Regions from separate parts of the Homo sapiens genome. Here region 2 is linked to region 1. The links come from fine-mapping of genetic effects on gene expression. Tissue or cell type: whole blood. Region 1 holds a variant in brackets; the other region holds the start of a gene. All regions are shown on one strand. Distances are between the middles of the regions.

Evidence for each region. PIP is the estimated chance that this variant, and not a neighbour inherited with it, causes the effect.
Region 2: it holds the start of BFSP2-AS1, and the variant in region 1 is fine-mapped to the expression of BFSP2-AS1 in whole blood (TOPMed, PIP above 0.99).

What each region holds. Positions count from the first base shown.
Region 1 is chr3:133,428,690-133,436,795 of GRCh38, forward strand. All of the region lies in intron 1 of BFSP2 (beaded filament structural protein 2), which reads left to right. The region is part of intron 3 of BFSP2-AS1 (BFSP2 antisense RNA 1); the gene reads right to left. Among named protein-coding and RNA genes, the nearest start is that of BFSP2, 33 kb to the left of the region's middle. The variant G/T (reference allele first, on the strand shown) is at 4,132.
Region 2 is chr3:133,487,286-133,495,391 of GRCh38, forward strand. It overlaps BFSP2-AS1 (BFSP2 antisense RNA 1), which reads right to left and starts at 3,824. Exons shown (of 4, transcript NR_189064.1): 1 at 3,617-3,824. It also overlaps the pseudogene MAF1P1. RefSeq lists enhancers at 94-594, 1,746-1,795, 1,816-1,945.

The DNA of each region.
Region 1 (8,106 bases):
CTTCGGGTAAACACGCAGGGCCTGTTGGAGAGCCACCTGGGTGACTGGGACTGCGTCCACATGACCTCTGCAGTCACCCCGCCCACTGTTCCCTAAGGCCACACTTCCATACCGCCTGCCCTCGCTCTGACCTGCCTTCTCCATCAAACTTGTCCCAGCCAGTCTCTCCCTGTGTCTGTCAGGGTCCCAAGATGTATCAGCCACTGTGCTAGTTTTCTTTTCCAAGTTGATTTTATTTATGCGATCGATCTCATTCTGTTCTTAATTATGAAATATTTTTAACACATAAAAAGCCACCTAATACTCAGCATTGTCAACTCAGTGTTATTTGTTAAAAAACCTTTTTTTAAAACCTGAAATCAAAGATTTTAGATATAATTGAAACTCCCCTTGTACTCTGTCCTGATTGAATTCCACCCCCACCCCCCCAGAGGTCACTGCTGCCCTAAATTTGGTGCTTACCACTCCCATGAAAGTTTTACTACATATGTATAAAACCTTTCCTAGGACTATTTTGCATTATTTTAAACTTTATGTTAAATTGTGTTATACTGTGTATTAGTCAGGGTTCTCCAGGGAAACATAACCATAGAATGTGTACAGAGAGAGATTTATTTTAGGGAATTGGCTCACACAGTTATGGAGGCTAGAAGTCCAAGATCAAAGTGTCAGCAGGTTGGGAGGCCCAGTGAAGAGGTGACACTGCAGTTCAAGGCTGAAGGCTGTCTGCTGGTGGAATCCTATTTTCTCAGGGGACCTCAGTCTTTGCTCTGTTAAATCCCGCAACTGATTGGATGAGAATACCCACATTATGGCACGCAGGCAACCTGCTTTACTCAAAGTCCACCAATGTCAATGTTAGTCTCATCCAAAAACACCTTCACGGAAACATCTAGATTGTTTGACCATCACATATTATTTCCATCTGCAACTTACTTTCTTCACTTATTGTGTTTTTGAGATTTATCTGTGTTGACAAATCTATCATTTCATTGTATATGAGGGGACTTCAAAATGTTCCTGGAAAAAAAATGGAATTAAGAGATAAAAATACAAAATGTAAACTTTTTTTTTTTTTATTATACTTTAAGTTTTAGGGTACATGTGCACAATGTGCAGGTTAGTTACATATGTATACATGTGCCATGTTGGTGTGCTGCACCCATTAACTCGTCATTTAGCATTAGGTATATCTCCTAATGCTATCCCTCCCCACTACCCCCACCCCACAACAGTCCCCGGTGCGTGATGTTCCCCTTCCTGTGTCCATGTGTTCTCATTGTTCAATTCCCACCTATGAGTGAGAACATGCGGTGTTTGGTTTTTTGTCCTTGTGATAGTTTGCTGAGAATGATGGTTTCCAGTTTCATCCATGTCCCTACAAAGGACATGAACTCATCCTTTTTTATGGCTGCATAGTATTCCATAGTGTATATGTGCCACATTTTCTTAATCCAGTCTATCATTGTTGGACATTTGGGTTGGTTCCAAGTCTTTGCTATTGTGAATAGTGCCGTAATAAACATACGTGTGCATGTGTCTTTATAGCAGCATGATTTATAATCCTTTGGGTATATACCCAGTAACGGGATGGCTGGGTCAAATGGTATTTCTAGTTCTAGATCCCTGAGGAATCGCCACACTGACTTCCACAACGGTTGAACTAGTTTACAGTCCCACCAACAGTGTAAAAGTGTTCCTATTTCTCCACATCCTCTCCAGCACCTGTTGTTTCCTGACTTTTTAATGATCGCCATTCTAACTGGTGTGAGATGGTATCTCATTGTGGTTTTGATTTGCATTTCTCTGATTTTCTTCTGCAATGCCGCTTGACCCCAATACATACTCGACAGTAGTTCCAAATAGCCAGAAAACGGCACTTTCAATTTTTCCACCCTACAAGATCTAAATAATTCTTGTCATAAAATGGGCAAATGGTCTGAGGTGCCTGACGTCCAGGCATTCTTTTACGCATCGGTCCCTCTCTAGTCTCTGTTCCCAATGCAACTCATCCCAAATCTTCCTTCTTTCCCTCCCGCCTGTCCCCTCAGTCCCAACCCCAAGCGTCGCTGAGTCTTTCTAATCTTCCTTTTCTACAGACCCATCTGACCTCTCCCCTCCTCACCAGGCCGAGCTAGGTCCCAATTCTTCCTCAGCCTCCGCTCCTCCACCCTGGTCCGCTCCTTTTATCACCTCCCCTCCTCACACCTGGTCCGGCTTATGGTTTCATTCCGTGACTAGCCCTCCCCCACCTGCCCAGCAATTTACTCTTAAAAAGGTGGCTGGAGCTGAAGGCATAGTCAAGGTTAATGCTCCTTTTTCTTTACCCCAAATCAGATAGCGTTTAGGCTCTTTTTCATCAAATATAAAAAACCCAGCCCAGTTCATGGTTCGTTCGGCAGCAACCCTGAGACGCTTTACAGCCCTAGACCCTAAAAGGTCAAAAGGCCGTCTTATTCTCAATATACATTTTATTACCCAATCTGCTCCTGACATTAAATAAAACTCCAAAAATTAAATTCCGGCCCTCAAACCCCACAACAGGATTTAATTAACCTCGCCTTCCAGGTGTACAATAATAGAAAAAAGTTGCAATTCCTTGCCTCCACTCTGAGACAAATCCCAGCCACATCTCCAGCACACAAGAACTTCCAAACACCTGAACCGCAGCAGCCAGGCGTTCCTCCAGAACCTCCTCCCCCAGGAGCTTGCTTCAAGTGCCAGAAATCTGACCACCAGGCCAAGGAATGCCCGCAGCCCAGGATTCCTCCTAAGCCGTGTCCCATCTGTGCGGGACCCCACTGGAAATCGGACTGTTCAACTCACCTGGCAGCCACTCCCAGAGCCCCTGGAACTCTGGCCCGAGGCTCTCTGACTGACTCCTTCTTGGCTTAGCGGCTGAAGACTGATGCTGCCCGATCGCCTCAGAAGCCCCGCAGACCATCACGGACGCCGAGCTTTAGGTAACTCTCACAGCGGAGGGTAAGTCCATCCCCTTCTTATCAATACGAGGCTACCCACTCCACATTACCTTCTTTTCAAGGGTCTATTTCCCTTGCCTCCATAACTGTTGTGGGTATTGACAGCCAGGCTTCTAAACCTCTTAAAACTCCCCAACTCTGGTGCCAACTTAGACAATACCCTTTTAAGCACTCCTTTTTAGTTATCCCCACCTGCCCCGTTCCCTTATTAGGCCGAGACACTTTAAATTATCTGCTTCCCTGACTATTCCTGGATTACAGCCGCATCTCATTGCCGCCCTTCTCCCCAACCCAAAGCCTCCTTTGCGTCTTCCTCTCATATCCCCCCACCTTAACCCACAAGTATGGAACATCTCTACTCCTTCCCTGGCAACCGATCACATGCCCATCACCATCCCATTAAAACCTAATCACCCTTACCCCTCTCAACGCCAATGTCCCATCCCACAGCACGCTTTAAAGGGATTAAAGCCTGTTATCACTCGCCTGCTACAGCATGGGCTTCTAAAACCTATAAACTCTCCTTACAATTCCCCCATTTTACCTGTCCAAAAACCGCACAAGTCTTACAGATTAGTTCAGGATCTGCGCCTTATCAACCAAATTGTTTTGCCTATCCGCCCTGTGGTGCCCAACCGGTACACCCTTTCGTCCTCAATACCTTCCTCCACAACTCACTATTCCGTTCTTGATCTTAAAGATGCTTTTTTCACTATTCCCCTGCACCCCTCGTCCCAGCCTCTCTCTGCTTTCACCTGGACTGACGCTGACACCCATCAGTCCCAGCAGCTTACCTGGGCTGTGCTGCCACAAGGTTTCAGGGACAGCTCTCATTACTTCAGCCAAGCTCTTTCTCATGATTTACTTTCTTTCCACCCCTCTGCTTCTCACCTTATTCAATATATTGATGATCTTCTTCTTTGTAGCCCCTCCTTTGAATCTTCTCAACAAGACACACCTCTGCTCCTTCAGCATTTATTCTCCAAAGGATATCGAGTATCCCCCTCCAAAGCTCAAATTTCTTCTCCATCGGTTACCTACCTCGGCATAATTCTTCATAAAAACACACGTGCTCTCCCTGCCGATCGTGTCCGACTAATCTCTCAAACCCCAGCACCTTCTACAAAACAACAACTCCTTTCCTTCCTAG[G/T]CATGGTTAGCGCGGTCAGAATTCTTACACAAGAGCCAGGACCACATCCTGCAGCCTTTCTGTCCAAACAACTTGACCTTACTGTTTTAGCCTAGCCCTCATGTCCGCGTGCAGCGGCTGCCGCTGCTTTAATACTTTTAGAGGCCCTCAAAATCACAAACTATGCTCAACTCACTCTCTACATTTCTCATAACTTCCAAAATCGATTTTCTTCCTCATACCTGACACATATACTTTCTGCTCCCCGGCACCTTCAGCTGTACTCACTCTTTGTTAAGTCCCACAATTACTATTGTTCCTGGCCAGGACTTCAATCTGGCCTCCCACATTATTCCTGATACCACACCTGACCCCCATGACTGTATCTCTCTGATCCACCTGACATTCATCCCATTTCCCCATATTTGCTTCTTTCCTGTTCCTCACCCTGATCACACTTAGTTTTTTGATGGCAGTTCCACCAGGCCTAATCGCCACACACCAGCAAAGGCAGGCTATGCTATAGTACAAGCCACTAGCCTGCCTCTTAAGAACCTCTCATTTCCTTTCCATTGTGGAAATCTATCCTCAAGGAAATAACTTCTCAGTGTTCCATCTGCTGTTCTACTACTCATCAGGGATTATTCAGGCCCCCTCCCTTTCCTACACATCAAGCTCGAGGATTTGCCCCCACCCAGGACTGGCAAATTAGCTTTACTCAAAGCCCCGAGTCAGATAACTAAACTACCTCTTAGTCTAGGTAGACACTTTCACTGGATAGGTAGAGTCCTTTCCTACAGGGTCTGAGAAGGCCACCGCAGTCATTTCTTCCCTTCTGTCAGACATAATTCCTCAGTTTAGCCTTCCCACCTCTATACATTCTGATAACAGACCAGCCTTTATTAGTCAAATCAGCCAAGCATTTTTTCAGGCTCTTAGTATTCAGTGACAGACTAGCGGTCTATTAAAAACACACCTCACCAAGCTCAGCCAGCAACTTAAAAAGGACTGAACAATACTTTTACCACTTTCGCTTCTCAGAATTCAGGCCTGTCCTCGGAATGCTACAAGGTACAGCCCATTTAAGCTCCCGTATAGACGCTCCTTTTTATTAGGCCCCAGTCTCTTTCCAGACACCAGACCAACTTAGACTGTGCCCCAAAAAACTTGTCATCCCTATCTTCTGTCTAATCATACTCCTATTCACCGTTCTCAACTACTCATACATGCCCTGCTCTTGTTTACACTGCCAGTTTACACTGTTTCTCCAAGCCATCACAGCTGATATCTCTTGGTGCTATTCCCAAACCGCCACTCTAAACTCTTGAAGTAAATAAATAATTTTTGCTGGCAGGACTATGCTGAATCTCCTTAGGCACTCACTAATCAGATGTCCTAGGTCCTGCCAATTCTTAGACCTTTTATACCTGTTTTTCTCCTTCTCTTATTCCATTTAGTTTTTCAATTCATACAAAACCGTATCCAGGCCATCACCAATAATTCTACACGACAAATGTTTCTTCTAACATCCCCACAATATCACCCCTTACCACAAAAATCTTCCTTCAGCTTAATCTCTCCCACTCTAGGTTCCCACGCAGCCCCTAATCCCGCTCGAAGCAGCCCTGAGAAACATCGCCCATTCTCTCTCTCCATACCACCCCCCAAAAATTTTCGCCGCCCCAACACTTCAACACCATTTTATTTTTCTTATTAATATAAGAAGGCAGGAATGTCAGGCCTCTGAGCCCAAGCCAAGCCATCGCAACCCCTGTGACTTGCATGTATATGCCCAGATGGCCTGAAGTAACTGAAGAATCACAAAAGAAGTGAATATGCCCTGCCCCACCTTAACTGATGATATTCCACCACAAAACAAGTGTAAATGGCCGGTCCTTGCCTTAAGTGATGACATTACCTTGTGAAAGTCCTTTTCCTGGCTCATCCTGGCTCAAAAAGCTACCCCACTGAGCACCTTGTGACCCCCACTCCTGCCCACCAGAGAACAAACCCCCTTTGACTGTAATTTTCCTTTACCTGCCCAAATCTTATAAAACGGCCCCACCCCTATCTCCCTTCGCTGACTCTTTTCGGACTCAGCCCACCTGCACCCAGGTGAAATAAACAGCTCCATCAAGTTCAAGACACTTTTGTAAGCAATGATAGCAGCCATTTAGTTCATCCCTAAAGAACTGAGGGCCTTGGGAATTTAGCAATGTTAGTGCAGTCTTTTCACATTATTAACTGAAGAAAAATGAGTGCCCTTTAAAGATTTTTTAAGATTAGGAAACAAAAAGAAGCCAGAAGGAGCCAAATCAGGACTGTAAGGTGGACGCCTAATGATTTTCTACTGAAACTCTTGCAAAATTGCCATTATTCAATAAGAGGAATGGGCAGAAGCATTTGTCATGATGGAGGACTCTCTAGTGAAGCTTTCTCAGGTGTTTTTCTGCTAATGCTTTAGCTAACTCTCAAAACACTCTTATAATAAGCAGATGTTGTCATTTTTTGCCCTCCAGAAAGTCAACAAGCAAAATGCCCTGAGCATCACAAACTGTTGCCATGACCTTTGCTCTTGACCTGTCTCTCTTTGCTATGACCGGACCCCTTCCATCATTTGCTAGCCATTTCTTTGATTGTGCTTTGTCTTCAGGATTGTACTGGTAAAGCTATGTTTCATCTCTTGTTACAATTCCTTGAAGAAATGCTTCAGAATCTTGGTCTCACATGTTTAAAATTTCCATTGAAAACTCTGCTCTTGTCTGCGGCTGAGCTGGGCAAAACAGTGTTGGCACCCATTAAGTGGAAAGTTCGCTTAACTTTAATTTTTCGGTCAGAATTGTGTAAGCTGAACCAATGGATATGTTTATGGTGTCAGCTATTCTTTCTGCGATCAATAATTGGTCCTCTTCAATTAGGGCATGTACAAGATGAATTTTTCCCTTGCAAATTGTCTGCTGCTATGGCCTTCGTCTTCAACATCATTTTATTCTTTCTTAAATGAATTATCCATTTGTAAACTGCTGATTTCTTTAGGGCATTGTCCCCATAAACTTTTCATAAAGCTCCCATGATTTCATTATTTTTCTACTCAAGCTTCACCACAAATTTGATGTTTTCTCTTGCTTTAATTTTTTCTGAATTCATGTTGCTATGATAGGGGCTCTTTCCAAACTGATGTCTTATACTTCTTAGTGCCTCTTATATCTGATTCTGAACTATTCTGTTCAGATATAAGAACTTAGTATGAGTTTATTTTGGTGCAAAAAAATTTGAAATTTAGGCTGGGCACGATGGCTTATGTCTGTAATCTCAGCACTTTTGGAGGCCGAGGCAGGTGGATCACTTGAGGCCATTGCTACTAAAAATACAAAAAATTAGCTGAGTGCAGTGTCGTGTGCCTGTAGTCCCAGCTACTGGGTAGACTGAGGCACAAGAATACCTTGAACCCAGGAGGTGGAGCTTGCAGTGAGCCAAGTTCTCTTTGCTGCACTCCAGCCAGGGTGACAGAGAGAGACTCTGTCTCAAAAAAAAAAAAAAAAAAAAATCTATGTATTGTTTTTTCATAATACACATTTTTTTCCATGAATTTATTGAAGGTTCCTTGTCTATATGATAGGTTATGACTTTTTCTGTTGATAGGCATAGGTTGCTTCCAATTTTTCTATCACAAACAAGAGAGAGCATAAGCTCTCTCTAGTGAGGAACTGCCATGGCATAATACATAACAAGTGCTTAAAAAGCATTTGGGTTTGACTTGTTTGGCTTACTATGCACCTGGTACTGTCAAGACAAAGCAGCTCAATTTTATTTTTTATTATTATACTTTAAGTTCTAGGGTACCTGTGCACAACGTGCAGGTTTGTTACATATGTACACATGTGCCATGTTGGTGTGCTGCACCCATTAACTTGTCATTTACATTAGGTATATCTCCTAATGCTATCCCTCCCCGCTTCCCCCACCCCACTACAGGCCCTGGTGTGTGATGTTCCC
Region 2 (8,106 bases), 59 kb after region 1:
CAGGCATTCCCAAGCCTATGGGGCCATGGGGGACTTCCTGGCCCCCGAGAGTGCAGGAATGCCTAGGTCTGCAGGGCAGCTGGGCAGTTGCAGCTGCACCTGGGAGGGTGGGGCTCCTGTCTCTCCAACCAGGAATGAGTCCTGGCTTCCTCCTGTTCCCAGCTTCCACCGGCTCCTGCCAGCTTCCACCGGCTCTTGCCAGCTTCCTGGAGTACACAGCCCTGGTGTGCCTCCCCTACTGCAGCCAGCGTCTTTGCAGCAGCTGCTCCAGATAAGCTGCCACTGCCATCACTTGGAAGGTTGAGGTGGGAGAGATTGCTTGAGCCCAGGAAGTGGGGACTGTAGGGAGCCATGATCATGCCATTACACTCCAGCCTGGGTGACAGATCGAGATCCTGTTTTTAAAAATATAAATAAGGCCAGACACGGTGGCTCACGCCTGTAATCCCAGCACTTTGGGAGGTCGAGACTGGTGGATCACAAGGTCAGGAGTTCGAGAACAGCCTGGCCAACATGGTAAAACCCCGTCTCTACTTAAAATCTAAAAATTAGCCAGGTGTAGTGGCAGGCGCCTGTCATCCCAGCTACACAGGAGGCTGAGGCAGGAGAATTGCTTGAACCCTGGAGGTGGAGGTTGCAGTGAGCTGAGACTGCACCACTGCACTCCAGCCTGGGGAACAGAGCAAGACTCTGTCTCAAAAATAATAATAATAAAAAATAAATAATAAATAAAAGTGAGCATCCTTCCTGATTTTTAAGAAACTCCCTGTCAGTAATTGTTAGGGGGCTAATCTTCTCAGGTTACAAGACAGACCTCTAGGGGGCAGTGTTGTCCAAACTCCACAGGCCAGCCTGCTGGTCTCAGGGGGACCCATCTTGAGTACCCTATTATGTACTATGTTCATGGAACCTAAGGCATCATTGATTAATAGAGATACCATTACTGGATGTGCCACTAAAAATGAAACTACTCCAGATAGAAGTCTATTAGACCCCAGATAAAGCTGAGACACTAAAGGCCTCTGTGGAGGGGGTCCATGAGAAATATACAGAAAAAAGAGAAAGAAAGGGACATGCATAGTAGGACAGCAAGAGAAGTTGCATGTTTCAATTTTGCCATGGATGGAGGAAGTAAAATCTGCCCGTATAATTTGAATCAAAAGTTGGTTCTCATGCAGTTTTCTGGTACTACTTGTGCCATCAAAAAAACCTCAGAGAATTTAATGTACAAATGCACCTCAACTTATGATGATGTTATGTCCTGATAAACCATCATAAGGTGACTATATCATAAGTCAACTTTATCCAGTTGTAAGTTGAGAAGCACACTGAATGCATATTGTTTTCACACTATCACAAAGTTGGAAAATCATAAGCTGAAACATCGTAAAGTTAGGGACCACCTGTAGTTTCACATTATTATGAGTTCCTTGGCAAGGGTAGAACCCAAAGCTTATATAATTTGATGCCCTCTTTTAAAAAAGAAATACAAAATATCTTACTCTTGCAAATTTTATAAAAACCTATGATGAGGCTGAGTGTGGTGGTTCACATCTGTGATCCCAGCGCTTTGGGAGGCTGAGACAGGCAGATCACTTGAGGCCAGGAATTTGAGACCATCCTGGCCAACATGGCAAAACTGCATCTCTCTACTAAAAATACAAAGAAAATTAGCTGGGTGTGGTGGCACGTGCCTCAGCTACTCTGGAGTCTGAAGCATGGGAATCACTTCAACTTGGGAGGCAGAGTTTGCAGTGAGCTGAGATAGCAACACTGCACTCCAACCTGGGCAACAGATTGAGACTGTCTCAGAAAAAAAATATGTAATTTGATCCCATGAAGCTGTGAGGTGGAACCCTTTCAGGACCTTGGAAGGGCCATGCAAATGAGGTGTCCTGAAGCTTTACTCTCATTGGTAACTCAGCCTGTGCCCCAAGTGACAGGCAGAAGCAAAGAAAAATCCTCTACAAATGAACACAATTTTAATCGAAACAACAGCAATCACAACATACCATCAACTATTATCATATCCTGACTTCAGAGATGTTAAAGTACACAACAGTATGCTTCTTAGGAGCAATGAAATATGATATTTCAAAAAGAAAAAAGATAATGTAAATTTTGACCCTGACTTGGCTAAGACAATAACACATGACAACAACAATGATGATAGCTATCATTTATCAAGCTCCTACAGTGTGCCAGCCTTCTCACAAACTTTTTTTCTGCTCCTCACATGAGCTTAATGCCACCACCAAAGACTTGAAAGATACAAGGTAGTGATTCCTACCAAATCCACAATTAACTCACTTGTTTGATCAGTGTACAAATCAAGTAGGTCATAGAAAATGACCACAGATCATCACGGACTAATCCAGTGGTGAGGTGAATCACAACCAGAATTGCAGAGACGGTATTTTTACTGGAGCAAATCCACACAGTCCCTGGCACCTGGGCCACTATTGACCTGGCAAATGCTTTATCCTGCCCACCCCCACCTTAATCCTCTTCTGCCCTGTTGTGGCAGGGACAGCAGTATACTTTTACTGTCCTGCCTCCGGGCTATGTCGGCTTGCCTGCACTTAGTCAGAATGCAATCTGGAGGGACCCAGAAGCCCAAGCTGATCCATTACATATCTTTATCATGCTAATTGGACCTGGAGAGCCCCAAAGAGCTAGCACCTAAATGCCTTAGTAAAGTACCTGCAATGCCAGAAAATGGGAGATAAAGCCTGACAATATTCAGGAGTCTGCCACATGCGTGAAGCCTCTAGAGTCCAGTGGTCTGGGCTTTGTTGGGATAGACCTTCTAACATGAGATTCAAGTTGTACTTTACACCAGAAAGAGCCATGAAGAAAAAGATATGAAGCTTAATTTTCAGAAGTAACACAAACCAGATTTGAGTATCTGTTGCTGTGAACCACTAACTCAAGTAACCCTTAAGGGTACAAGGTTTTTGGCTTTTGTTTTTGAATTTTTATTTTAACATAATTTCAGGCTTACAGAGCAGTTGAAAGAATAGTTGAAGAATTGCCATATACCCTTCACTCAGATTTCACAAATATTAACATTTTCATAGGCAGACAGAAGCAAATTATTTTTAAGTTGAAGTAGTTAAGTTTCTTTTATACTTATTTAGTTCTAGGAATTTTGACTGATAGACATTGACTGGTGGGGGAGGTGGAGGTTGCTGGCTGACCAAGGTGATCTGTGGTGGTTGGTGGCATGTTGGTGGCTAAAGCAGGCAATGTGCAGTGTGGTAAGGATGTGTCATAGTGACCACCTGGATGAGCCAGCAGGGCCAGGTATAATGAAACATTGCCATGGAGTTTCTTCCCCCAGATACAGTGTGGCCCAGGTGGATGCCACGGTGCCACCCTCTGGTGCTGAGGAGCCCACACTGTGCGGAGCCTGCCCTGCCTATGCACCGGTGCCGATGACCCAGCCAGGCCTGATTTAGCCCCACCAGGCAGGCAGCAATGGCCCCTCTCAAGCATGGAGCTCCCTCCCTGAGACAGGAAGCTATTGGAGAACTGGGCTTTGAAGCCATCAACTCACAGCTAACTGTAGAGAGCAAAGATACCCACATTATCAGCAGGATTGAGAGCTACTCACGTAAGATAGCAGGAGACGACAAACACTGTTCTGACAGGAGGGCGGCCCACATACTGAAGGCTCTCTCCCCATCCCAGACCTCAGGCCTCAGCCCCAGCAGCCTGAGCAAGAACCAAGGTGGCAAGGACAAGGGCCCCCCTCAGGGACAAGTGCAATTGCAAGACCCTCTTCCACTTGATTGTCATGCTCAGCGAGTCCTTTCAGGCCTGACTATGACCTCAGCACAGCCCGCAGCCATGGGTTCAGCCGGAAGCCCAGCCTCAGGTGGGTGGTGAATGCAGTCAACCGCAGTCTGTTCTCAGCTGCGTGGGGGGACATCAAGGTCCTAGAACACAGCTGTGGAACACAGTGGATGAGGAGATCCACCTGGCTTAATGAGACACCCACAGCTATAACCCAGACATGGACCCAGATGCCTTCAGAGAAGAAGATACCCTCTGGTCCTTCAACTACTTCTTCTACAACAAAGGGCTCAAGCAAATTGTTTTCTTCAGCCACCGCTCCATTAGCAGCTCCACCTGCACACCCTCAGAGGCAGGCAACGAGATGGACCTGGAACTGGGGGAAGAGGAGGAAGAGAAAGGAAGCAGAGGTGGAGGCAGTGAGGGTGGGGCCGAAGAGACCAGACCAAGGAGGACAGGTTCCCAGTGATTTGTATGTGATGAGGAGTAGCACAGGCCCCAGCTTCATCCAGCTTCAACCAATGCCTGGACCTGCCCACCTGAGAGGCCCTGAGGCCTCCCCAGCTGCAGGCCAGACCCTGGTGCTGTCAGAGTCTCAGCACTGCCCAAGGCCACACCTGCCTGGCCCTTTGGCTCCAGCCTGTAGGTGTCCACTCAACCCCATAGGCTTCTGCTGCCCACGCTGTGGCTGGACTAGACAGCACAGGACCTGCTGCAAAGAGTAACCACCTTGCCCAAACGAACTACCACAGGCAGGGACAGCTAGACCACAGAGTTTATTTTTGTATTTCTGCTGGGCCTGCACACTCCAGCCCAAAGGGCTTATAGCCAGAGGCCCCAGAGGTCATGAGCTCTAGTCTTGGGTCAGCTCTTGGCACCCACCTGTACCCCCACCTCACCCATTTGGCTGCATGCACTGAGTGTCACTTTGCTGCAGCTCATTGCTTTCCAATAAAAATGTTTGTGACTTAAAAAAAATTGAGACAAAAATTTAAAAATTTTATAACATGCTCATGAATGCTGGCAACCTCACCTCCACCAGCACCCCACCCCAGCTGCCACCACCGCCAGTACAAGTGCAACACCAGCAACCCCACGGCTGCCAGTGCCCCAGCCCCCATTTTCCCCCCTACCAATGCACCACCACCACCACTGGCATGAGCACATGCAGGAACACCGCCTCCCCATTTCTGCTGGAACCCCTCCCCAGCTAACACGTGTGCACCCCGCCATGCTGCTGCAGCTGCTGCCATACATCAGTAAGCACAGATCTCACTGACACCACCCTGACCAAGTGCTTTGGCTAGCATCTTCCATCACAGTGCTGTGGCCAGCAGACTGGGAACAACTCAGCCCCTCCAGCAGAATAGATTCCTAACCTTGAGGGTTCAGATAGCACAGCCAGGCGCCCAGCACCAGCCCTCCCAGAGTTAGAGCACGCAGCCCAGGAGTGCTGAGCTGAGTCTGGGCCCCCTAAAATCTTCCAGAAATGAAGCAAGTCAACCAAACCCACCATATACCACAATCAAACCAAGATCATCAAAGAAGATAAAAGCAGAAAACCTCTCCAAAGCACATCAACTTCAAAAATTGAAGGAACATCAGCCCACACAGATGAGAAAGAACTAGTGTGAGAACTCTGGCAACTCAAAAACCAGAGTGTCTTCTTACCTCCAAACCACCACACTAATTCTCTAGCAATCGTCCCTAGCCAGCCTGAAATGGCTGAAATGACAGACATAGAATTCAGAAAATGGATAGGAATGAAGATCATTGAGATTCAGGAGAAAGTTGCAACCCCATCCAAGGAATCAATAAGATGCTACAGGAGATGAAGGATGAAATGGCTATTTTAAGAAAAAAATAAACTGATCCGATAGACCTAAAAAACTCACTTCAAGAATTTAGTAATACAATCTCAAGTATTAATAGTAGAATAGACCAAACTGAGGAAACACTCTCAGAGCTTGAAGACCGTTCTCCAAAATAACTCAGTCAGACAAAAATAAAGAAAAAAAGAATTTAAAAGTATGAATAAAACCTCCGAGAAATACAGGTTATGTAAAGAGACCAGATCTACAGTTCACTGGCATCCCTGAAAGAGAAGGAGAGAAAGCAAGCTACTTGGAAAACATATTTGAGGATATTGCCGGTGAATATTTCCCCAACCTTGCTAGAGGCCAACATTCAAAGGCAGGAAATGCAGAGAACCCCTGCCAGACGCTATAAAAGATCACTATCCCCAAGACACATAGTCATCAGATTCTGTAAGGTCGAAATAAAGAAAAAGTTTTAAAGGCAGCTAGAGAGAAACAGCAGGTCACCTACAAAGGAAACACCATTAGGCTAACAGCAGGCCTTTCAGTAGAAACTATACAACCAGAAAAGATGGGGGGGGCCTATATTCAGCATTTTTTTTTTTAAAGAAATTCCGGCCAGGTGCAGTGACTCACACCTGTAATCCCAGCACTTTGGGAGGCCGAGGCAGGTGGATCACCTGAGGTCAGGAGTTTGAGACCACCTGACCGACACAGTAAAACTCCATCTCTACTAAAAATACAAAAATTAGCCAGGCATGGTGGTGGGCACCTGTAATCCCAGCTACTTGGGAGGCTGAGTCAGGAGAATCACTTGAACCCGAGATGGAGGTTGCTGTGAGCCAAGATGGCGCCATCGCACTCCAGCCTGAATGACAGAGTGAGACCCCATCTCAAAGAAAATAAATAAATAAAATAAAAAAGAAATTCCAACCAAGAATTTCATATTCAGCCAACTGAGCCTCATAAGTGAAGGAAAAACAAGATCCTTTTCAGATAAGTAAATACTAAGAAAATTTGTTACCCTTATATAATTAATATTCTATAATGGTAAAGGTTTCAATTCAACAAGAAAACCTAACTATCGTAAATACATATCCACCCAACACAGGAGCACCCAGATTCATAAAACAAGTTCTTGGAGACCTAAGAAGAAATTCAGATAACCACACAATAATAGTGGGAGACTTCAACACCCCACTGACAGTATTAGACGGATCATCAAGGCAGAAAACTGGTAAAGATGTTCAGGACCTGAACTCAACAAAACCAAATGGACCTAATAGACACGACAGAACTCCTTATTAGAAGCGAAGAAAAGACACTCCCAATATAATAGTCTCTCACTATTACTGTGTGGTGACAAAGACCCTATCTCTAAAAATAAAAAGTTTAAAAAAAAATCAAGAAATTAGCATTGGTGATAATATTATTATCCAGTCTGAATATTCTATTCAGATGTTGCCAGATGTCTCAATAATGTCCTTTAGAACAAAAGAACATTTTAGATCACAAGTAACATTCAGTTGTTATGTCTCTTTAGTCTACTTGAATCTGAAGAAGTCCTCAGCCTTTCCATCTGCATTTCATGACATTGGCATTCTGACAAACACAAATGTATTAGTTTCCTAGGCCGGCCATAACAAATGATTACAAACCGGATGGCTTTAAACAGCACAAAGTTATTTTCCCACTGCTCTGATAGCTAGAAGTCCAAAATCAAGGTGTCAGCGGGGCTGTGCTCCCCCCAGAAACCTGTAGGGGGAATCTTTTCTTGCATATTCCCAGCTTCCAGTGGTTGCCGGCAGCCCCTGGTGTGCCTTGGTTTGCAGCTGCAGCCCTGCAGCCCCTGCCTCTGTCTTCACGTGTTGTTCTCCCTTTGCGTGTCTGTGTCTCTGTGGCTTTTCTTCTCTTCTAATAAGGATACCTGTCATATTGGATTAAAGGCCCATTCTCCTCTAGTAGGACCTCATCTTAATTAATTACATCTGCAACAACTCTTATTTCCAAATCAGGTCACGTTCTGACATAGTGGGGATTCAAACTTCAACATATCTTTTTTTGGAGTCACAGTTCAATCCGTCTCAACAGGGCAGTTATTTTACAAAATACTCCTCAACTTGAGTTCTGGTATTTCCTCAGGTTAGATTCAAGTTGCACACTTTCAGTTGGAATACCATAAAACTCACCAGGAGGCATGTGATATCAATATGTCCCTCTCCTGGTGATATTAATTTTGTTTACTGGGTTCAGGTGGCGTGTGCCAAGCTTCTCCACTGTAAAGTTACTGTTTTTCCATTTGTAATTAGTAAGTATCTTGTGGAAAAATATTTTTAGTCTATTTTGAGTAAATATTGTTATTCCTCAAACTTTCTGTCCCAGAAGTTTTAGTTTTAGCATCAATTGATGATTCCTGCCCACGTCAATTATTACTTATTATGGTTGCCAAATGGTGATTTTCAAATTCCATCATTTCTTCTACATTTTTTAG